Linked DNA regions of Homo sapiens: regions 1 and 3 are each linked to region 2. Evidence: fine-mapped expression QTL. A gene starts in region 2. Each other region holds a variant in brackets. All regions are shown on one strand. Distances are from middle to middle. Region 1 overlaps EFHC1 (EF-hand domain containing 1). Region 2 holds the start of EFHC1 (EF-hand domain containing 1). Region 3 overlaps EFHC1 (EF-hand domain containing 1).

The links. PIP is the estimated chance that this variant, and not a neighbour inherited with it, causes the effect. A credible set is the group of variants that fine-mapping cannot tell apart.
Region 1: its variant is the best candidate, but not a certain one, in a credible set for the expression of EFHC1 in whole blood (INTERVAL, PIP 0.69).
Region 3: its variant is the best candidate, but not a certain one, in a credible set for the expression of EFHC1 in sun-exposed skin (GTEx, PIP 0.88).

What each region holds. Positions count from the first base shown.
Region 1 is chr6:52,450,981-52,459,136 of GRCh38, forward strand. It overlaps EFHC1 (EF-hand domain containing 1), which reads left to right. Exons shown (of 11, transcript NM_018100.4): 4 at 1,708-1,857; 5 at 3,115-3,307. Among named protein-coding and RNA genes, the nearest start is that of EFHC1, 35 kb to the left of the region's middle. The variant G/A (reference allele first, on the strand shown) is at 4,921.
Region 2 is chr6:52,416,219-52,424,407 of GRCh38, forward strand. EFHC1 (EF-hand domain containing 1) reads left to right here and starts at 4,124. Exons shown (of 11, transcript NM_018100.4): 1 at 4,124-4,255; 2 at 7,728-7,949. The coding sequence starts at 4,193. LOC124901331 (a long non-coding RNA gene) reads right to left here and starts at 4,763. Exons shown (of 2, transcript XR_007059611.1): 1 at 3,991-4,763; 2 at 1,682-2,230. RefSeq lists a silencer at 373-667 and an enhancer at 4,093-4,684.
Region 3 is chr6:52,487,922-52,496,110 of GRCh38, forward strand. EFHC1 (EF-hand domain containing 1) reads left to right here. Exons shown (of 11, transcript NM_018100.4): 10 at 2,219-2,429; 11 at 4,349-8,189. The coding sequence ends at 4,420. Among named protein-coding and RNA genes, the nearest start is that of EFHC1, 72 kb to the left of the region's middle. The variant A/C (reference allele first, on the strand shown) is at 4,352.

The DNA.
Region 1 (8,156 bases), 35 kb after region 2:
GCAGAGACTGGGTTTCACCATGTTGGCCAGGCTGGTCCTAAACTCCTGACCTCAAGTGATCCACCCACCTCTGCCTCCCAAAGTACTGGGATTACAGGCATGAGCCACCATGCCTGGCCTCTGTGCCTTTTAAATGGGGCCTTTAGCCCATTTATAATTAAGATTAGTGTTGATATGTGTAGATTTGATCCTGTCATTGTGTTGTTAGCTGGTTATTATGCTGGTTTGTTTGTGTGGTTGCTTTATAGTGTCACTGGTCTGTGTACTTGTGTGTTTTGTATTGGCTGGTAATGGCCTTTTCTTTCCATATTTAGTGCTCCTTTTAAGATCTCTTGTAAGGCAGGTCTGGTGGTAATGAACTCTGTCAGCATTTGCTTATCAGAAAAGGATCTTATTTCTCCTTTGCTAAGAAGCTTAGTTTGGCTAGATATGAAATTCTTGGTTGAAGATTTTTCTTCTTTAAGAATGTTGAATATAGGCCCCCAATCTCTTCTGGCTTATAGGGTTTCAGCTGAGAAGTCCAGTGTTAGCCTGATGGGGTTCCCTTTGTACGTGACCTGCCCTTTCTCTGTAGCTGCTTTTAACATTCTTTCTTTCATTTTGACCTTGGAAAATCTGATGATTATGTGGCTTGGGGATGATCTCCTTGCATAGAATCTTGCAGGGATTCTTTGTATTTCCTTAATTTGATTGTTGGCCTCTCTAGCGAGGTTGAGGAGGTTTTTGTGGACAATATCCTGAAATATGTTTTCCAAGTTGTTTGCTTTCTCACTGTCCCTTTCAGGAATGTCTGGTGAAATTTGAGCACTTGGTTTGTCTTTCCTATTTTGCTAACACGTTTTCTGGTCTAATATAACCAGTGGGTATGCTTTCTTTTTTTTCTTTTTTGGTGAGGGGAAGGGACTTAATCATATACAGTATTTGTTTTAAGTGAATTAGAAAATTGGGAATATGATTTCAGCCTAACTTGGCCATTGTGCATCTTGCCTCCAGACCTAATAGGAATTACATATTGTTTGAAACCATGGTTAGGTTCCAGATATATGAAAGTAAGCAATCCTAAGACTTACTCTGTTACAGGCACCTAACTAAATTTGATTGATTTAAATTATTTGAAAACAGTTATTTTGCCATTGTGCCTCCCAACTAGCTTAGCAAATACCTAGCAATATAACAATATAAAATACTTCAGGTAACTCTCAATTATTACCTGCATTATGGAGTTGGCTCAGTTGGAGACTTAATACAGCTTACATGCGCTCAAGCAGCAAACTAATGTTTAACTTAAGCAATGGCATAGAAATCATTATTACACTTTTTCTTTCTTTTTTTCTTTATTTGAGGCGGGGTCTTGCTGTGACGCAGGCTGGAGTGCAGTGTCATGATCATGGCTCACTGCAGCCTTGACCTCCTGAGCTCAAGCAGTCTACTCACTTCAGCCTCCTGAGTAGCCTGGACTGCAGGCAAATGCCATCAAACCAGTCTAACTTTTAAATGTTTTTGTAGAAACAGGGTCTCACTATGTTGCTCAGGCTGATTGTGAACTCCTGCGTTTCAGGAGTCCTCCTACCTCAGCCTCCCAAAGTGCTGAGATTGTAGGCCTGAGCCACAGTGCCTGGCCCATACACTTATTTTTATATAATCAGTTTATAACTTACTCTGAAAAGCTCCAAGAAAGATGATCATTGTTAACTTTCAATTATTTAGGTATTTTTAGAAAGCCAAGGAATTGAGTTAAATCCACCAGAGAAGATGGCTCTTGATCCTTACACTGAACTCCGAAAACAGCCTCTTCGTAAGTATGTCACCCCATCAGACTTTGATCAACTCAAGCAATTTCTCACCTTTGACAAACAGGTAAGTGACATAGGAACCACAATAGGCTTACTTATTTCCAAATGTGACCTACATTTATTGGCAAAAGGTTTGGGTAGCTGTATTGGTAACTATTTTGAAACATTACAGCTATAATTGAACTGTTTGGACACAGTACTGTCTTTCTGCTTTCATCAAGGGTTACAGGTACAGGAATGCCTACATTTCATATGGAGATCCAAAGAAGATCGTGGAGTTGCGGAGTTGTTTTGTGAACCTCACCAAACATTTAAATCTCAAAGCAATTCCTGAGCTACATCTGCTTCCCACCTTACGTTTCCAATTGACAATTTCTTTCCCTTAAAATGAGCTAATTTCATAGACTCCTTTGTGAAACCATAAATCGATTATTAGGAAATTTCACAAATATGCATACATGTAGGTTGTAATGTTAAAATGTTTAATTTCACAGAAGCCCCACTACAGATGCTTCCTTGTTAAATGTTATATTAATATTGGAGTCCAGAATGTTCTGAGCATTTTCCAACTCTGTTCCAACCTTCCTAATCCTCTCCCTTGTGAGCTGATGTGTATAAGCAGATTTAAATCCTTCCCTTTCTGTACTAAAGGGAGAAAGAAAAGGAAGAGATCACCCTCAGTGCTTCTTTGCTGCTCCTTTTCTTTAGACATTTAACCCCTTTTAGTTCAGAAAATGTAAACTAGCACTAGCATGGTCTTTTAAGGATTTTGTTCATATCAGTCATATATCTGTTATTATTTTGTATTTAAAGATTGTGTTTATTCCCACGATTTGAAGAAGCCTAGCCAAAAAAAAAAAAAAAAAGATTGTGTTTATATTATTGCTAGAAGATATGTGTTGATGGGACCAAAAAAAGACTGGTTAATAAATAAAAATTTTTTCTACACTAATTATATATAAACCATATTCACATGTACCTTTATTAATATATATATACCACTATGTAAAGAACTTCATTGCTCTTTTAATTTAGCTTCTCTTTCACTGACTAATATTTTGGATCAAAGTGAGCTCTTCTTTTTTGGCACAAACTTATAATCCTATTATTTAATTCTTTCCAGCTGCTGACATATAGTACATAATTTCAGATGTTTTAGTATGTTTGATGAATATTTCTTTTTTTTTCAATTTACCCCATCTGAAATTACTTCATAGTCTTTCCAGCTAGTCTTTCCATCGTTGATACATAATTGCCAAAGTAGCCAAGTTGAACTCCCTACTTTTAGGATTCTTGAGTCACTACTTTGGATTCTTCAAAGGTCCTTCGATTCTATGCAATCTGGGATGATACAGACAGCATGTATGGTGAATGTCGGACCTACATCATTCATTACTATCTTATGGATGATACGGTGGAAATTCGAGAGGTCCACGAACGGAATGATGGGAGAGATCCTTTCCCACTCCTAATGAACCGCCAGCGTGTGCCCAAAGTTTTGGTGGAAAATGCAAGTATGTTTGATTCAGTTTATTCTCTGTTACTTGGGATGTTTTTAGGTTCTTAAAGGAGTTACTTAATCAGTATGCAAAATTCGTTTATACTTGGAAGCCTCTAGCTATTTTTGCTTAGATGCTCAGAAAATGGCTTCCCACAGCTTTCCTCCTTTACTTGCCCCTCGGTCCAGGCGTGCCCCCAAGACAGTCTGGTACCCAGGTCAAGGAAACAAAACCAAAACAACAGTGGGAGATTTATTTAAAGTGCAGCAGAGCAAGGTTTCTGAACTGAAACAATTTAATATTAGATTTTTAATGCATTTTTCAAACAGGCTTGTTTTCATTCAAGGATATGAATGAAAGCTTAGCTTTTCTTTATATGCTTTCCTGACTTTGCTTCTCACTTCAACTACTTCCTAAACAGGAAGTTTCTATGTGGTTTAACTTGAGATTGGAAAAGGCATGTCTGTGACTCATAGAGGTGAGGTCCATTGTGTCAAACCCAGCTCATTCTTTACTGGTTTAAAATTACCTAGCATGGGCTGGGCATGATGGCTCACTCCTGTAATCCCAGCACTTTGGGAGACTGAGGCGGGTGGATTGCTTGAGCCCAAGAGTTTGAGACCAGCCTGGGCAACGTGATGAAACCTCCTCTCTACAAAAAATACAAAAATTAGCCATGCTTGGTGCCGCACACCTGTATTCCCAGCTACTTGGGAGGCTGAGGTGGGAGGATCATCTGAGCCTGGGAGGTCGAGGCTGCGGTGAGCTGTGATTGTGGTGCTGCACTCCAGCCTGGGCAACAGTGAGATCCTATCTCCAGAAAAAGAAAAAAAGTTACCTACCATATTTGAGAGTGGCAGTGCAACAAAATGGCAGCAAATACCTGCTGTTCACTGTTTCCTGGGATGAGTAGGCTTGCTTTAGTTATTGTCTTAGTAGTTTTTACATTTCTCTTAGAATAATGTCATCTTGGTCACATGTAATGACTGATAGCTCTTATGTTTGGGTGGCTGACAGGATTCTGTAAATGTGTTCACTGATTTTTTTTTCTTTTTACTATATTTTTTGGGAATTAGGATATAAGAAATTTCAGGTATTGGGGCTGGGCACGGTGGCTCACACCTGTAATCCCAGCACTTTGGGAGGCCAAGGCAGGTGGATCATGAAGTCAGGAGATCGAGACCATTCTAGCTAACATGGTGAAACCCCATCTCTACTAAAAATACAAAAAATTAGCTGGGCGTGGTGGCGTGCACCTGTAGTCCCAGCTACTCAGGAGGCTGAGGCAGGAGAATTGTTTGAACCCGGGAGGTGGAGGTTGTGGCGAGCCAAGATCGTGCCACTGCACTCCAGCCTGGGTGACAGAGTGAGACTCCATCTCAAAAAAAAAAAGAAAAAGAAATTTCAGGTATTGAGCAAGAAGTTTGTCTACATTAGAGGTTATAAATAAATGTGTAGTCTGAGGCTAAATTCAACGTGTCTGTACATATTGCTTCACTTGCACAGTGCTTTTTTATGAAAAATGCAGTATTATTTGTGGGCAAGGAGTTGGAGGTTTCCATCATTGAGAGAATGGATAAGCAAAAATGTAGTGAAGGTACATTTTGATTAATATACAGTAGTTAGAA[G/A]CAGTAAACAAGATGTACACAGAAAGCAAGTGGATGGATCTTAAAAACATAGTGCTGTGTAGGAAAAAATACATGAAATTAGATATATAATGCTATAACACATGCAAAACATAGTACACGTAGGACACATTCAGTCACATAGCTGCATTAGAATGATTGCATGTGAGGAGAGGAGAATGAGATTGGGGAAAAGGATAAAAGGGAGTGAAAATTGTCATCATTTTAGAATTAGGAAAGTTTATGTTATATATTTTTTTAAAAAAATGAAAATACTGCTAATTCAGCTTGTATTCTCAAATAGAAACAACTGGATCTGTGCCCTAGTTCAACATAGTTTGGCTTCTACCTACTATACATATTCTTATAATCAGTTCTCTACAGAACCGTCTTAGAGTTCAATGACAATGGGACTAATATAGTAATTTTGGCCTTTCAGAATGCTTAAACAAGCCTGAAATCCATGCAGTTCGGAGCTAACAAACATTAGATTTACAATAGATAAAGAAAATGGATAGGAATATATTCAGGGTGGCATGAAAAGTCTCACTGAAACTAAATCCCTTTAAATGACAGATTCCAGGTTTGTCTCTGCTTTATCAATGTGACCTATATTGAAAACTTAATATATAATTATCCTCTTCTATAATTTCCCAATTAAAAATTTTTTATCAAAGTTGCATGGAGAGGCAGCCTGGTGGCATATATAGGGTTCTTTTAAAAAGTAGGAAACAGGCTGGTCGCTGTGGCCGAAGCCTATAATCCCGTCACTTTGGGAGGCCAAGGTGGGAGGATCACCTGAAGTCAGGAGTTCGAGACCAGTCTGGCCAACATGGTGAAACCCCCTCTCTACTAAAAAATACAAAAATTACCTGGGCATGGTGGCAGGTGCCTGTAGTCCCAGCTACTTAGGAGGCTGAGGCAGGAGAATTGCTTGAAGCCAGGAGACAGAGGCTGCAGTGAGCGGAGATTGCGCCACTTCACTCCAGCCTGGGCAACAGAGCAAGACTCCATCTCAAAAAAAGAAAAAAGGTATCAGTCATGAGGTACAGAAAAGGCTATGTTCCCATCAGCTACATAATTCCTTTAACTAGAAGGGTAGTGTTAAAAGAATGATGTCTAATTGACTCTCAAAGGCATTTATCCAATGGGTGATTTTTATTAAATTCAATTAAACAAGAGGTAAATAATCTGCTATGGGAACCATTTCACATGCTAAATGCTATGGAGGACAAAATGTAACTCCCATTCCTAGAATCCTATCTTTCAGTCATTTCTAGTGTCATTAAGAAGACAAGGCATATAAAATACACAAAGCTGTTAAGTAATAACATGAGTATACCAGATTATCTGATTATGTAATTAGTTAAGTCATGCAGACCGAGGTCAGAAGGACAAAGGTGTGGGCCTGAAAAACTAAAGAAGTCTTTGTGGAAGAGCTGGGATTAGACTCAGATTTAGAATGGCAGAGAACAAAGAGCTCACTAGAAAGAAGAACAAGAGCAAAAGTTGGGAATTAGGAACAAGTATGGCATGTTTGGGGGCGCCCAAGAGATGGTGGCTAGGCAGAGAGTTTGTATTAGACAGTAATAGGAAATTATGGGAGTAACTTTCAGAAGTCCTCTCAACCAGGGCCTCCTTTTAAGTAGCTAAGATAAATCAAAATTATATATTTATAATGGATGGAGTTAAAATATCAGAAATTCAGAAAGTTATTTCTTCGTCAAGGGCAATTGCATATTACCAATAGGTGGCAGGTAATATCAAAACAGGACATCTTTTGACTTAACAAAAGCTTTCTACTCAGCTCTTGAACCCAAGGAACCAGGTTCTGAAAGTCTAAATATGTTAGTTATCCTTCAGACTGGCTTTCATAGTTTGATCTTGCCCTTGCCTGTTAGATGAATCTTGAACACCCCTTAGACCTTTAGTGTTCCAGAAAGTTGAATGTATTTCCTCACTTTCTGTGCATCTTTGTTGGCTCACTCAGTCATTCGAATAATATTAATCGAACATCCATATAGATGAAGGAAACACCATGCTAGGCAATGGAGATCTGAAACTACTATAAGCCCCATATCTCAAAGACTTTACAATCTGATGAGATCAACATACAGATCAATGAAATAGAACAAATTGTCCAGAAATAGATGCACACATATGAGGTCATTTGATTTTTGACAAAGGTAAAAAAGCAATTTGGTGGAGAAATGATTGTCTTTTTAACAAAAGGTGCTGGAACAATTCAATAGCCTATGCAAAAGTAAATAAATAAATAAACTTCAACCCTTACCTCACCATACATAAAAGTTAACCCCAAATGGATCATAGACCTGGGCGACAGAGTGAGACCCTGTCTCAGAGCAGGGGGAAAAAAAAAGCAAATGTAATGAAAACAAAAATTGACAATTGGGACCTAATTAAACTAAAGAGCTTGTGCATTGCAAAAGAAGCTATCAACAGAGGAAACAGCCTACAGAATGGGAGAAAATATTTGAAACAATGCATTTGACAAATGTCTAATATCCAGAATCTATAAGGAACTTAAATCAACAAGAAAAATAACAAATAACCCCATTGAAAAGTAGGCAAAGGACATGAACAGACACTTCTCAAAAGAAAACATACAAATGGACAACAAACATTTTAAAAATGCCCAACATCACTAATCATCAGAGGGATGCAATCATACCAGTCAGAATGGCTATTATTAAGTCAAAAAATAACAGATGTTGGCAAGCTTGCAGAGAAAAGGGAATGCTTATCACTGTTGGTGGGAATGTGAACTAGTTCAGCCCCTGAGGAAAACAGTTTGGAGATTTCTCCAAAAGTAGAACTACACCAATCCCATTATTGGGTATATACCCAAAAGAAAATAAATTGTTGTATCCAAAAGATACTTGTATTCATGTTTATTGCAGCACTGTTCACAATAGCAAAGACATGGAATCAACCCAGGTGCCCATCACTGGTGGATTGGATAAAGAAAATGTGTTAATGGTACATATACACCATGGAATACTATATGGCCATAAAAAATAAAATCATATTCTTTGCAGCAACGTGGATGCAGGTAGAGGCCATTATACTAAGTGAATTAACACAGAAACAGAGCATTGGGTATACACATGGACACAAAGACAGGAACAATAGACACTGGGGACTCCAAAAGGAAGAAGTAAGGGAGAGGGACAAGGGTTGAAGAACTACCTATCAGGTACTGTGTTCACTATTTGGGT
Region 2 (8,189 bases):
GGCAATGAAAAAATGAAGACCATCTTCTTATGACGCTTATATCCTGTGAAGTATGTTCCATCAGCTTTGACAAGGAAAGAGAATTCCAACGGAATCAGCTAAAGCTATTGAATAGGTTTGACTTAAGGGAGGAAAAAGCAGCAGAAATACAGGTTTTTCCAAACCCCAGGCAGGAGCCCACATCAAGACTAAAATAGTCTAGACCCAAATGATGTAATTTTTGTGTCAAATGAAGATCTCCTGTGGATCCTAAATCTAATCACTGGATGTTTCTCCTTTTCCCATACTTTGCAAAGATCGAAGTGGATGACTGGGCCCTCTTTTTAGATAAAATATTTCAGAGGCCATGGAGTGATGGAAAGGAATGCTAGAGAGCACTCTGACTGAGGGACACCCCCTGGCCATATTCACGTGCTCACCACACCCCCAAGTACCTGCAAAACCTGCAGGTATGTAATTGGTTGTTTTCTTTTCCAGAAATTTTGCTGTACCATTTTTACCCAGCAGAGGGAAGCAGAACACCAAATCACTGCAGAAGTAATCCAGGACACATGCACACACAGCCCTTTGGTATTTTTTGTCCTGTGAATTTAGGTATTATAGAATGAGAATGTCACAGTTTTGAAAACAAATTCTGGGTAAAGTCAGCTCTGGGCAAAATGCTGAAAGAGGAGAGGTTTATTTTAGCTGACTGCTTATGGCCTGTCCCATCAGGATTGCCTGGAAGACATTACCCAGCCCACAAGGCCCTCTTTCAGGCTTGGCTCCTGGCAGTCTGACCTTTCAATTTTTTTCCATTCCCCAAGTTTTGGAACACCTGCTAAAATCATGCAATATTTCTGTGGTCTTCTGAGTCAGGCTTTATGCAATGGCCTTTCAATCATGGCATTTCCTACTTTAGCTGCCAGGAATGGTCAGTTTCCTGCCCTCTTTTATATATTCCACTAAGTGGGAAATGGTGGGTACAAACTGAAGTGCAATGCATGCTAAGTGGTCATGTAGACTGGAGTGCAGTGGCATGATCTCTGTTCACTGCAACCTCTGCCTCCCCGGTTCAAGCGATTCTCCTGCCTCAGCCTCCTGAGTAGCTGGGACTACAGGCATGTGCCACCACGTCCAGCTAATTTTTGTATTTTTAGTAGAGATGGGGTTTCGCCAGGCTGGTCTCAAAATCTTGGCCTCAAGTGATTTGCCCACCTTGGCCTCCCAAAGTGCTGGGGTTACGGGCATGAGCCACTGCACCCGACTGGGATACAAACTCTTAATCACAGCAGACCTTCTGAGGATCCAGGTACCTTTCTGAAGCCCTGCCTTTCCTCCCGCCCCACTTCTTTACAGACTTGTCCCTGTGCCTTTTAACACTAATGCAGTACGTCTGACTTCCCCTCCTCAGAGATGATAGCATTTTTAGGAGGCCATAGACCAACAGAAGTTGTCTTCATGCATTTCTGGGGTCCGAAAGTAGTTAAAACACACCCCTTAGCCATTTAACTGGCGTGCTTTTCTGGAAAGAAAGGCATGAGCAGAGGGCACTCCTCAAATAGAAACAGATGCGATAATGGACAATAGGCTTAGGCATGACTCAGCCTTTCCAGCTCCACACGCTCCTTCCCTACCCAACCCAGGAATATAGATCCAAGTGCAACCATGCACTTAGTCAAGAAGAGCTCTTCAAAGTGTGTCCTAATGCCATGAAATTTACTTTTAATAAGAGAGTGGGTAGGGAGGGATCATGGAACTTCTAACAGTTTAAGGTTATCATGAAGAGTCAGCAAAAATTACAGTAACCAGTGATTCTGGGTAATCAGCGTCAATGAGGTGGAGAGAAGTGGGAGAGGTGCCTTATCTTTGAAAGGTTAAACTTGCCATCTTTTTTTTTTTTTTTCCTTTTTTTGAGACGGAGTTTTGCTCTTGTTGCCCAGGCTGGAGTGCAATGGCGCGATCTCGGCTCACTGCAACCTCTACCTCCCGGGTTCAAGCGATTCTCGTGCCTCAGCCTCCCAAGTAGCTGGGATTACAGGCATGCGCCCCCATGCCCAGCTAATTTTGTATTTTTAGTAGAGGTGGGGTTTCACTATGTTGTCCAGGCTGGTCTCAAACTCTGACCTCAGGCGATCCACCCGCCTCGGCCTCCCAAAGTGCTGGGATTACAGGCGTGAGCCACCGCACCCAGCAAACTTGCCATCTTGACATATTCCTCCAGTGACTGGCATCCATCCTCAGTTGGTGTCTAAGGTATAATACAACGGACAGGTACTTTAAAAGTTTTCAGTAACTTCCACAATGCTAACCAATGTTTGAGGAATATGATTACATTTATTTTTTTAAAAAATAAGCAAGTTTTGTAAAAAGCACCAAAGGCAAAAAAACTTCATTGAAGTTTTTAAAAAATGTATTAAACTGCTGCATTAAGGTAATGTACTTACAGAAAAAGAAAAAGAGGTTTAAAAAAGGACAAGAACAGGAAACAGATGTAGTAAGGGGAGAAGAGTTAGAAAGGAAACTCTCTGGGCAGGGTATGGTAAGCAGGCATCAATAACTGCCTCAGGTGCCACTTAATGCATTCATGTCCTGGGCCTCCTGAGCGTCACACAAATTAGTGAAACCCAACAGGGGGATTTGCTCTGACAAGCAGCAATAAAAGTAAAGCTGCTGTCTGTATTGGCAGTAAACTACCTGTGACACTGAGATATGCCTTCTGTGTCTGGCTTATTACTCTATCATGTTCCTAAACTGGCTTGTCACAAACGCCTGTTACAAAAATCAGATTCCTGGCCTCCATGTCAGACCTAATGAATCCAAATCTCTCGGCACGTGGGTTTTGATTACTTTTTATTTTTAAGCTCCTCAGCAATGATGGATAGCTTTCTCCCCCCCCCCCCAAAAAAAATGTTTCAGGAATAGGATTATGTTTCTTTTAAGAAAAAATAATTTAAGCAAGTTTTGTAAAAAGCATCAAAGGCTATACCTATGATGCTGACAATATTTCACCTCACTTATCTGCTTCTTTCCCAAGACTTAGTCTTTCTCTTTGAAGGAGCTGTGTTCCTCCTAGTGGTTCTGATCTTTTTCATTGCAGCTGCAGGTACAAACGAGGGATTGAGGTGACCACCCTTCAACCTGCAGCTCTTCAGTCAACAAAAATCAAGTACCTATCAGAGTGCACCCTGCCCTGCAGCACATATTCAAGGCTTTCCCTACAAAAACAAAGGTGTTTAACCGAAGGGATTGATGGTAGAATAAAGAGAGCTGGGCGCGGTGGCTCATGCCTGTAATCCCAGCACTTTGGGAGGCGAGGTGGGCGGATCGCTTGACCCCAGGAATTCGAGACCAGCTTGGGCAACATAGTGGGACACTATCTCTACGGAAGGAGGGAAGTAGGGAAGGAAGGAAGGAAGCAAGGAGGGAAGGAGGGACGGAGGGAAGGAGGGAAGGAAGGAAGGAAAAAGAAAAGAAAGGAAAGAAAGAAAGGAAAGAAAGAAAGAGAAAGATTGATTTTAAAAAAGAGTTAAAAGGGGAAAAATACAATGTGGCAGTGGGAGAATTAAGGATGAGATGATTGCATTAGTTCATTGACCATCCCTGAGCAACAGAAACACAATCATGGGTAATCCTCGGCCCCTGCCTACAAGAAGCATGGGTCTAGTTTAGTAGCACTGCCAACTGGACCGACCATTTACACTTCTGTGTGAAATGGGGCAGAGGGGGGAGAAAAGAGTGCCTGAGCTCACAGCGTTGGCGGGGCGCAGTGAGGTCCGCCAGGACTAGGTGGAAGGAGAGAAGGAACGTCCCTCTCTGCAACTCATCTAAGGGCCTGCTCGGACCCCGGATCTCACAGCGAGAACTACCGCCTCGCTACACCCGCCTTTCCCCGCGCCACCCAACAGCTCCCACGTCTCATCCTCCGGGAGCGGGGCGGGGCGAAGCGGAAGAGGAGGGGCCGACACAACCACGCCCACTAGCCGCGCTCCAAGGCCGCGGCCCACTTACCGCGAGAACGCGGAGTCCTGCGGATGGCGCACGCGCAAACCTCCTGTGATGCCTGCGCCTCCTGGCCCCGCCTTCCGCTCGTGGGAGTTCCGGATGTTTAGCGTTACCATGGATCCTGGAGGTGCCCGCGAACACTGCTTGTCGCCTGGGCAACCGGAGAGGACGAAGCAGGACCTAGGTGGCGGCGGTGGTACCGGCTGCAATGGTGTCCAATCCCGTGCATGGCTTGCCCTTTCTTCCGGGCACGTCCTTTAAGGACTCTACGGTGAGCAGTTATCTGCCAGACTCCCACCTGTCCCCACCTTCCAGCAGCCCAGGAGGTTTCCCCGCTCAGTGCACCTCCATTCCCCTCCACTCAAGTCTGTCTTCTCTCCAAACACGTCTTCTGTCCTGACCCTGTTCTTTATTCTGGGCCGAACTTCTGCCGTTCTTCCCTAGCCATCCTCATCCCCTCTCTCCGATCCTTTGCCCTCCGCCTCATCCCTCTCTAGTTTTTTCCCACTCCATCTTGGCAGTGTGTTGGCGCCTTCATTCTCATCCCGTTAGCCGCGTTCTTTCTTACGGCCCTGCTCCTCCAAGCCCCTGCCTCTTGTCCCTTTAGATCACTGTTTCCCCCACCCTACTCCCAACCTATCTCTGGGCCCTCTCCCTAGCTCGTTCTCTCACATCATAACCTGTCTCCGTCCATCGCCGCCCTTAAAACCCCCCGCCACTATGCACCTTCAACCTCATTCCCACAGGTCCGTCATTCCCGCCCCACCTCTTCCTCTTCTGAATCCTGTACCCGGTAGTATCTCCCACTCCCAGCTCCATTTCCTGTTTTGTATGTATATCGATTCCGCTCCTCTTCTTTCCGCCAGGTCTTTTTCCTTTCTTCTTTATGCTTGCATCCAACCCCATTCTTTTTTCTCCATCTTCTACATTTTCCACAATTTAGTCCCATCCTCTCCCCATTCCTTTCTTTCTCCGTTGCGGGTTTTCCCCAAAACTTGCTCACCTTCCTCCCAAAGCATCTTTCCCTGCTTTGTAAGAGATATTCCTTTCCAGTTCCCTCAAGAATTGATTAGTTGCTGTTTATTCTTCCCCGGCCCTGTTCTTTTTATTCTAACGTTTTTGTAAAAAGATTCCTGTTTAGATTTTGTTTTGCTCCTTCCCCAACCTTGTGTTTTTATTTGCATTTTCTAGACAAAATTTTTTAAAAAGTAGCAGCAGCTTGGATTCTTTTTTTTTTTTAAACTCTTGCCACAGTTTAGCTCTTAAAATTATTTGGTTTGTTTTAATTCTGACAGGGCTACTGAAATGTATGTGCTGAAAAATCAATAATGAGATTCAGTAGACTGATCATCATAGATGAGCTAACAGTAGTTTATGTTTATATAGTTTAATACTTTAAACTCTTGCCTTCCTCTCCAGCTTCACAAAGTTAAAATATTTTGTCAATTTATTTTCTTTGGAAGAATCAATTTAGAATGAAATCGAAAGTTTGGTGAGAGAATTTGTATTCTGAATCTCTGTAATTATCCCTGCATTAAGACACAACATCATAGATTTTTAGTTTCAGTGGACTTTTCAGTTTTATGTAATTTAGAAAATGTTGTAGGCACTTGCCTGCCCTATACAGGATGAGCTTAAGCTTTTGGTGTTGGTGAGTATAGACAGGGCTGAGTTGATACAGGGAATTACAGAGGTGTGGATGGAAGTGCAAAGCTCTAAAAACATATTGCTGTATTACAAGTAAGAAGAACTGTGCATTGGACATATTTCAGATTTTAAATACACTGGCCAAGTGTCAACCAATTTGCCCTATTTGAAATTTGAAAAGCATCGTCAGTATATCTTCAGCAGTGAAGGACTGAATATGTATTAATGTAATTCTAAAGACATGCAGATAAGAAGTTAAAAAATTTTTAAAGGGGAGTGGGAAAACGATTTTAAAAAAAGACACACAGAAGGTGAACCATAATGGACAAGAGGGGTGGAAAGGGCCGAGGTTGCCTTGCCTGGGGTGTCTGTGAGTTATGGCTGAATGATGGTAGAGACATTTGTCTAAAACAAAGAAATAAACTGAAGTCACTGATGTTGCTTCTGTCTTTGGTGGTGGAAGAAGAGCTTGAAGTTCCATAAATTACCCAATGAGGATGTCAACTCAGCGCATTTTGTTCTATGTCATGTTTACTATATACCTGGAGCAGTCCCTGTCAACTGACTTGTGACTCTGAATACATGACCTTTAAAAACAAATGTCATACATTTGTTTTTATGGGTTATATACAGTTTATAACCCTTTTAGCAAAAGAAGTTTATTCTGTTGTACCTTTCATGTTAGTACAGATCTTGAAAGATGGTAGGCTGGGCTCTAAAGCAATTAGGATGTAGAAAGTTTTTTTCATAAAAATATTTTTTATGATTAATCTTAAATTGTATCTATGTATATATTTGAATATTATAGATAAGTAATTGTGAAAGTATCCTCACAACAGAAAAAGGAAACCATTAACATAACCTCTAATTTGCCTTTCTACTCTTTTTTATTTAATCTTTTAAATAAAAATGTGTTCATTGTAAAAAATCAACATAATTTAGAAATGTATAATACAGAGGACCAAACCAGTCTCTTCATGCACATATTTCCATGCTTATAATTGCAGTACACATATAATTTTATATGTTGCTTTTTCAGGCTTATTAAATCATAAATATTTTCACCAGGTTGCCACGTGATCTCTAAAATCAATATTTTAATGACAGCACCATAATCCATTGAGTGAGTTTTCGATCATTTACTCATGTCTTCATATGACTGTCTTTTAGATTGTCTTCAACATTTACCATTGTAATGGGCAGCTTCAGGCATATAGTTCTTTCTCATAATTCTGAATCATATTCGTAAATAAATGGTCGGGGTAGAATTATTGAGTTCAAGACTTTAAATATATACCATCCAGTTGCTTTCCAAAGAGTTGTAAGAATGTATCACTGTCATTGTGACAAGAGGGACAGGTAAAAATAAATTCATTCCATGTAAAAATAAAATTCACAGAACCGTATCTTCTAGGTTCTACAGTTTTTACGGCCCCAGATATCAGATGAAAAACATGAGAAGACTAGTGAAAAACTTAAGAGTATAGATGAGATACTCTTTTAATCTCTCATGCAAGGTGAATTGGTAGTTAAATTGGGCATTACAGAGCACAGCTTTAAATTTTACTTTAAGCTTAGGTGGCTACTTCGCTCCTTGTTCTTGTTCAAGTGTTTTAACTTAAAATACAGAATCTTTTAATGTAGGTAAGCTTTTGTTTTGTTTTGTTTTTTTGAGACAGAGTCTCACTGTTGCCCAGGCTGGAGTGCAGTGGTTCAATCATAGCTTATTGCAGCTTGGACCTCCCAGGCTCAAGTGATCCTTCCACCTCAGCCGACTATAATAGGCACAAGCCACCACACCCAGCTAATTTTTTTTTTTTTTTTTTTTTTTTTTTAGTTTTTGTAGAGACAGCATCTTGTTGCCCAGGCTGGTCTCGAACTCTGGGGCTGAAGTGATTCTCCCTCTTCAGCCTCCCAGAGTTCTGGGATTATAGGCACGAGCCACCATGCCCAGCCTTAATGTTGGTAAGCTTCTTGATGTAAGTTTTGTGATGCTTATAAGCAAAGATTCAAGTTATATTTTTAAAAGTTAGTTTTTTTTTTACCTAACAAATATTTGTCTAATGTTATTAATGACACATTCTTTTCTTCTTCAGAAAACAGCCTTCCACAGAAGTCAGACGCTGAGCTACAGGAACGGCTATGCAATTGTTCGACGTCCAACAGTTGGGATAGGCGGAGACCGGCTCCAGTTCAACCAGCTGTCCCAGGCTGAGCTGGATGAGTTGGCCAGTAAGGCACCAGTCTTAACTTATGGCCAACCTAAACAAGCCCCACCTGCGGATTTTATTCCTGCGCATGTGGCCTTTGACAAAAAGGTATCATCTGGAATTTTAGGGTACCCCTTGAATTAGGGTCTGAGAGCCAACTGCTTGCAAAAAAGTTAAAACAGTAAACCACAGAATTTCCAAAGGGCTCTGAGGAGAAAATTGTTCAGATGCCTTAACCCTTAGTCATGGACAGCTGAACTCAGGCTAAAAAGAGGCTTTCTTTAGTCAGGAAGCTGATTACAGGGAGTAAAGTAGTTCCCTGTAGACTTCACCAGACTATTTTCCAAA
Region 3 (8,189 bases), 72 kb after region 2:
CCCTGACTTGGGCTTTGGCAATAAAGTAGGGGCTGTAACTTTAACTAGCTCTTCCTTAAACAGTACCACCTATTGCCATCTATCTGTGAATTTACTCCATCTTGCTCAAAGGCAGCAGATGCCATGGGTATTTTTCCTGCTGTATAAAGGGGAATGGGAATCTGGCTTCTTTGGGAAAGGGAGAGTTATTGTCTCTTTCCCCAAATGATTGGATGATCACATTTTAACTTTATATGTTTCATGGCTCTAGTTCTTGGAAACACATGCAAGATTGAGGTTTGACTGCTTTCTGCCACTAAAATAGCTCCCTGGTGGTCATTCATAATTTAGTATATATGATTTGAATTACATTCATCAGATAAACACATTCTGCTTCTATAATTAATAATGCCAGAGAGCATTTAGATATTGGGGATTATTACAACAATTTTTATTGTTCTTGGCTTACTACAAAAGTAACACATGACCAGAATTTGAAAATTTAGGGAATAAAAATCTAGGTAATAGAAATGGAAATAAACAAAAATTTTTGAAAATCTTATAACTCAGAGATAACTGCTTCTAATATTTTGTTTTTAAAGATGCATATAAAGTGGAAAATTCTGTAATACTATTTTGCTTTTTTCACTTGATAGTCTATCATGAACCCTTGTGAAATGAAATATTTGAAGACACAGATATGAAGGGACCAAGGAAAAGCTTTGTTCCTACCCCATCTTTCATGTACCCACTTCTTACCCTCCACTCCCCATAGGTAACTACCTCTTTCATTTATTTTTTTGAATATCTTTTCAGAGTTTCTTTAAATAATATAAGCAACTTTAAGTATATACTCTTATTCCCCCACAACTTTTATAACACAAGGTAACACTCTATACATACTTTTATGTCTTGAGTTTCTCACTAAAAATATCTTTATACTCTTTCTGCAGCATTGTCAATGGCTGCAGTATTATTCTGTTGCTTTATTGTAGTGTAAATTATTTAATTCCCTATTTTTGGACATTTAGACTATCTCAAAACAATCTTATAGATGTATCTTTGCATACAACCCATGATTATTTCCTTAGGATAAATTATTTGAGATTATTTGCTGGACTTTTGCTTCATGTTTCCAAATTTTTCCTGAAAGGTTATTCCACTTTATACCTTCCCCAGCAAGACTTGCCAGCAGGTAAAAGAGGGAAATAAGTTAAACAGAGGCTATTTGCAACAGTGAACTTTAAAAATATTATACGCAAGAAAAGTAAATACAGAAAAGCAATGGTAGATTGATAGTTTTCAAGTTACGGAAGGAGAGGAATTCAGTGAGAGGTGACTGGGCATAATTGAGAGAATATGTTGGAACTGGAGTGGGATGTGAGTGCTAGTTTTGCCGCTGACATGGGATCTGGGATCAGTCACTCGGGTCTTCAAATGTGTTTTCTCATCACTGAAAGAGGGAAGAATGCTTACTGACTTTATGTGGCCCATTTTGTTCTAAAAGGATTTATGAAGATGAAATATGAGGGAATCTTTCAGCTCTAAAATTTTTAATTTTATAACTGTACCTTCATGTTCAGAGGAAATAAAAATTGAGCCTCTACTTATTGTGGTTGTTTTTTGAAGGGTTAGACCTCTCTCTTCCCAACACCCTGTGTTACTATTCTCTCTTAATTTCAGTAAATGCTAAGCCCAAACTTCTCACTCTACCTCACAGAGCAATCTCTTAGCTTCCATAGATAACCTTTCACAAAATTCAGTGTGAATTGGAGAGGGAATAATATTAAAACTATAAAAGGTTGATTCTTGGCTACAGATCTATAGCTATATATTTATATCTATCATCTCTCTTTATATATATCACTCAGGCATTTAGTTGTAGATGAGGAAACATTAATCTGCAACAGTAGTAAGAGACAATGATGTGATTCTCACAGATACCAAATTTGGCATGGTGGTGGTATTAGATTTGCCTCCTTGTGATGCAGTGATTAACAGATGGCAGGAAAGGAGGCTGAGCAAGAAGGGAGGAAATTCAAAAACTGCCCCCAGTCGGGCCTTCCTGATGTGGAGGTCAGCTATCGGCCTGTGGGCAAGTGTTCAGTTATTGGTCAGCTCAGTCTCAAAGCTGTGATTAGAAGCTTCCCTGATTTCATCAAGTAAGAACTTTGGTCACCGAGATGAGACTGATCAAGAATAAATACCATGTGCAGTCATTTCCTTCCTTTCTCTACAGCAAGCAAACTGAAAAGGATCCAGGCGTGCAGGAATTGGAAGCATTAATAGACACAATTCAGAAGCAACTGAAAGATCACTCATGCAAAGACAACATTCGTGAGGCATTTCAAATTTATGACAAGGAAGCTTCAGGATATGTGGACAGAGACATGTTCTTTAAAATCTGTGAATCGCTTAACGTCCCAGTGGATGACTCCTTGGTTAAGGAGGTCAGTATGAATTACTCTTCTGAGTTCATTGCAGAGGCTAGGCACTGATCATTCTTTTCTAAAGGCAATTGTGTGTGTATTTCACTACAACTGGGCCAGATTTAGGATGTTCAGATCAGATCTACTATTCTGTCCTGATTAGGTATTGCCCGTTGATTCTAGCATTGGTATTCTTTTCTAATTGCTGTTGCAGGGCATCTCTTTAAGTGGGCCTGGGGCTGGACAACACAGAGTGGTTAGTAGACCAACATGTCAGGACTGAAGAAGGGCAACAGAGACGATCCAGGAGGGGTGGCTACCAAGGGGAGACTCAAAGATAAGTTGATAGAGCAGACTGGTTGGCAGCCTTTGATACCCTTCACAGCTGATACCTACACTGGCCCATCAGTAGGGTTAGCATGAAAGAAGGCATGACCACTGCAGGAGGGCTGTGGCATCTGTCAGTAGTGGTAGCATGGCCAGCAGCTGATGGAGGAAGGGCATGGAAGTTTTCTTCCTTGAATTTTCATAAGTGAGTTGAAGGGGGACTTTCATGCCTTTTCTTCATTATAAACCCTTTAGCCAGGGTTCCCTTGGAAGTCAGAACAAAGTCCCCCTGAGAAATGCCAAGGACTGTGGCTTATGATCATTGAGACATTCTTACTGATTAAAAATATTGAGATTCTGAGGCCTTTTTAAAGATCTTTTAGCCAAAACAGGTGTTCAGAATTTAAGAGTCATTTAGGAAAGGGTTTGGTTTAGGGCTAGTGACTAGGTTGGAGATGAGGATTTTTCATAGACAGAAACATTAGCAGGGAGTGAGTAGGAGGGCAGATAGAAGAGTATTTGTTCATGTGGACCAAACACACATTTAGCTCCCCAAATTTTAGGTTGACAGCATGCCCAACTTTTGATTTTCAAATTCTTCATACTGTCTGATGTGGGAACTGACATGGGAGAGAGGGATGGCAGTCATTGGCAAGTGGAGCAGGGAAGTGGGGGTGGGACAGATTTGCACATCTTATAAAAATAACCACAGAAAATCAGTCTGTTACCAGTCACAGTCGAGTTTTAAGGGACACAGGTTGAGCAGTGGCATAACCAGACCCTTCCGTTAGGCTGTGGTAGCAAGAGCCTGCTATTTAAAAAGTCTTACTCCTCATGAGCTGAGTGGACAGTCTTTTATTTGAATATAAAAACAACTAAAAGTGCTTTTATAAATATGGATGTTAGTTCTGAAATCTTGGGAAATGTGGCAGACTGCCACGGTTACTTGAGACATCTCTACGACAATTACTACTGTTACTACTTGAGACCGTCATTACGAGAGTTAACGAAGGAAGATGAAAGCAGAAATGAAAACTTAAAACAAAAGTAACTATTTTAAAGGAAGGGAAAGAAGAGAGCTCCCTGCTTCTAGTGAGCAAAGGCAACCGCCCGAGCTGCTACAGCCCTTCATATTTATTGGGTAGAAAGAGCAGGGATTAATTGATCACAGGTTCACATTATTGCTAACAGGCTTCAGATGTGTCTAATCACAAGAAACACTTGTGCCTGGGTCGTGACTGCCTTCAGCGTTCCTTCTGGGCAGCAGACGCAGTTTGTCAGTTTGCCAACATCCTGCTTTCATGAGAAACAGTTTACTGTTTACTCATAGAGCCTCCAGTGGTATACTGAGTTGATCATGACGCTCATTCTTTCGGCCTTCAACAGGGAAGGTCATTTACTCCATCCAGCTTTGGTTTCATTAAGTGTAAGATGGGGATAATGTCTGTCCTACCTGCCAGGTTCACAGGATCATTTCAGAATCAACTTGAGGATACAAAAATTCTGAACTGATTTACAAAGGCTCGGGATCATTATGCATAAGCGCACTCTGCAGTTGAGCTGACGGAAGCCCTGCAGATCTGTCTCACCTATTCTCTTTGCTCTCTCTGCAGTTA[A/C]TCAGGATGTGCTCTCATGGAGAAGGCAAAATTAACTACTATAACTTTGTTCGTGCTTTCTCAAACTGACCTGCTGATGAGAAAATGCAAGACAATTTTTGATACTGGAACTATGCTTTGAAATACACCTTACACTCTTCATAGAGGCATTTACAGGGTTCCTGAAGTTTTATTTCTGTTTTGGTTCTTCTTTCACTCCTACTGAAGTCGAAACTAAATTGGATCTAATAGGATCTAAGATTGGTGCCTTATTTAGGGTGATAGGGGTATAGCAATGTCTAATTTTGTGTGTCAAATTGACTTGGCCACAGGGGGCCCAAATATTTCCTTTCTTTCTTTTTAAAAAAATAAATTTTTTTAGAGATGGGATCTCACTCTGTCATACAGGCTGGAGTGTGGTGGCACTATCCTAGTTCTATGAAGCCTCAGACTCCTGGGCTCAAGTGATCCTCCCACTTCAACCTCCCCAGTAGCTGGGACAACAGGCTCAAGCCACCATGCCCAGCTAATTTTTAAAATTATTTTGTAGAGACAAGGTCTTGCTAGGTTGCCTGAACTTGTCTCAAACTCATGAGCTCCAGAAATTCTCCCACCTCAGCCTCCAAAAGTGCTGGGATTATAGGCATGAGCCACTGTGCCCAGCCTCAGATATTTCATTATTCTGGGGGTTTCTCTGAAGGTATTTTTCGATGAGATAAACATTTGAATCAGAAGACTAAGTAAAACAGATAGTCCTCCCTAATGTGGGTGGGCCTCCTCCAATCATTTGAAGACATGAGTAGAATAAAAAGGCTGACCTTTCCCCAGGTAAGAGAATTCCTCCTGCCTGACTGGCTTCAAATTGGAACATCAGCCTTTTCTTGCCTTCAGACACAAATGGAAACATCAGCTGTTGGTCTGGAGCCTGCTGACCTTCAGACTGGACCTAAACCATCAGCTCTCCTAAGTCATAGGCCTTTGGATTCAGACTGGAATTATACCTTTAGCTCTCCTGGGTCTCCAGCTTGCCAATTTACCCTGCAGATCTTGGGACTTGTAAGCCTTCATAATTGTGTGAGCAATTTCTTATAACTCTCTCTTTCTCTCTCTCTACATATATATATATATATATATTTTATATGTACACATTCATACACACACACGCTTATATGTATACATATAGTATGTATATGTGTATATATATTATGTATATACATATATGTGCACACATCTCTACTAAAAATAGAAAAATTAGCCAGGTGTGGTGGCGTGTGCCTGTAGTCCCAGCCACTCGGGAGGCTTAAATGGGAGAATCACTTGAACCCTGGAGGCAGAGGTTGCAGTGAGCCAAGACCACGCCACTGCACTCCATCCAGCCTGGGTGACAGAGCAAGACTCCATCTCAAAAAAAAAAAGGTTAGAAAAATGCTGCTTTTAGAGAGCCTGGCCTTGAGAGAGGAAGGAAAGACTAGTTGCAGTTACTATTCTCTGGTGAGCTCTGACTGGCTTTTTACAAACAGGGCTTCTCTTTGGTTGAAGTCAGCCACTAAGTTCATCTTTAAACATGCTATCTCAAATTCCCCGAAGCCACCCAAAATGTGGTATGAATGAGGATAGAGTTACACAGAATTCAGACTGCTTTGCCCTCTCAGAACTTCTAGGGAACTTCCCTTGGTGTTTCCTTCCCTAACGAGCTCAGCCACTTGTAACCAGCTTATTGAAAGGGCTGTGAATGTATTATGTTGATTCCTTTTCTGTTCCAGGTTATTATCTTGGGAATAACCCATGTTTTGTTTTGTTTTACCCTCAGTCGCTCATAACTATTTAAAACAGTATCTCTTTCAAGTACAGATGCTCCTCTACTTATGGGGCTATGTCTCAATAAACTCACGTAAGTAAAAAATATCACAAGTTGAAAACACATTTAATAACCCTGATAAGCCCATTGTAAAGTAGGCAAATAAGTTGGACCATTGAAAGTTGGGGACTATCTGTATTTTAGAAGTTTTTTCAGCTTAAAAATTACCAAGCTCTATCCTACTTGGCCCAGCTCAGTCCTTCCCCCAGGCTTAGAAGCCTGTGGTAAAGAGTGTGTGTATACTGGGGTGATGATAGTGGTTTCTTCTTACTCCCTTCTTTCTGTCTTCTGCTCCCTTTGTTCCTATTCAGCCATGCTGCTGTTTCTAGCCCATGTAGGCTCTGGGAAAGGTTAAGCGGGTAGAAACCAGAGAAAAAGGGCAAAGTCTTATTTCTGTGGCTAGTAATGTCGTAATGTGGGGCCAGGTCTGAGTGACATGTGCCGAAAGGCTGACTCTTTCTCCCAGAGCACCTTTTCTCTCTTTTTGGATTCAGGGGGTACATGTGCAGGTTTGTTACATGAGTATATTGCACCCAGGTAGTGAGCATAGTGCCCAGTAAGTAGTTTTTCCACACATACCCCCTCCTTCCCTTCCCACTCTGGTAGTCCCCAGTGTCTATTGTTCCCATCATTATGTCTATGTGTATTCAATGTTTAGCTCCCACTTAGAAGTAAGAACATGCAATATTTGGTTTCCTATTCCTGCATCAATTCACTTTAGGATAATGGCCTCCAGCTGCATCCATGTTGCTGCAGAATACATGATTTCATTTTTTATGGCTGCGTAGTATTCCATGGTGTAGATATACTTCATTTAAAAAATCTAATCCACCATTGATTGGCACCTAGGTTGATTCCATGTCCTTTGCTCAGAGCCCCGTTTTGGTGAGTTCTTAGAACTCTTTCCAACCGGAAACTGCCCAGTGCACCACTCTCAGATGGACGGGACCCAGTCTGTACCTGATCACCCCGGCTCTAATGGTATGGTCTCCAAGGCTCCTTCTGATCTTCCCAGGAGGCCCTTTCAGGCTGACACACCTTCCAGGGTGTGCACTCTCGCCATGTTCTCACCCAGATGGCTCTCTTGGCTGTGTAATTAGGCAGCTCAATCCCTTTCCTTTAGACTGTTTCAGGGGAGAACCAGGTACCCCAAATCTTATGCTCTCCAAACTCCAGGGGACAGACACATGTCAAACCCTGAGTCTTTTAAAGTATACCCTCACTTAGCTTGCAGACCCAAGGCACTCCAGCCCCTTTCAAGAAGCTTGCACTTTCTGATATTTTCTCCATCACTCTTGCCTCCTGTGGTAGAGGAGCTTTGGGCTACTCCTTAACAAATCATTCATGGATCGGCAGCAAATCTGCAACATATGGATATATTTGCCAATTTTTGTCCTCAGCTTTGGGTCTCAGCCAAAATGGAGATTTAGGAAAGTCTCATTTAGCATCCTCTAGCCTGCTTTTGGCTGTTTTGTTTTGTTTTTGTGTTTGTTTTTTAGAGACAGGGTCTTACTCTGTTGCCAGACTGGAATGCGGTGGTGTGACCATAGCTCACTGCAGCCTCAAACTCCTGGGCTCATGCAATCCTCCTGCCTCAGCCTTCTGAGTAGCTAGGCCTGTAGTCTCAGAGGGAACTGTCTTCAATAAAGTTGGCACTGTCCACATACACTCCTTAAGTTTGCTGTCCACTTCTTGCCTTGCATCTCCTTTTAAGTTTACTTAAGACTGAGAAGCTGAGATCTGACAGCACCAACACAAGGTATAAAAGAGATTTCATGAAAGACCAAAGCCAGCAGGCCATTTCTGTGGTGTCCAAACACTCGCTGCTCACCTGTTTATACAAAGCAGCAAGTATAGGAGCCACAAACGTCAGAGCAAATCACTTTTTCTACTAAAATCCTGAATGGCAGTGCAGCCATTAGATGTCACTAATTACCTTATGCTACAGTCATAGCTGGCATGCATCTGGAGTGTCAGGTTCAGGTGGTGGAAGGGAGCTGA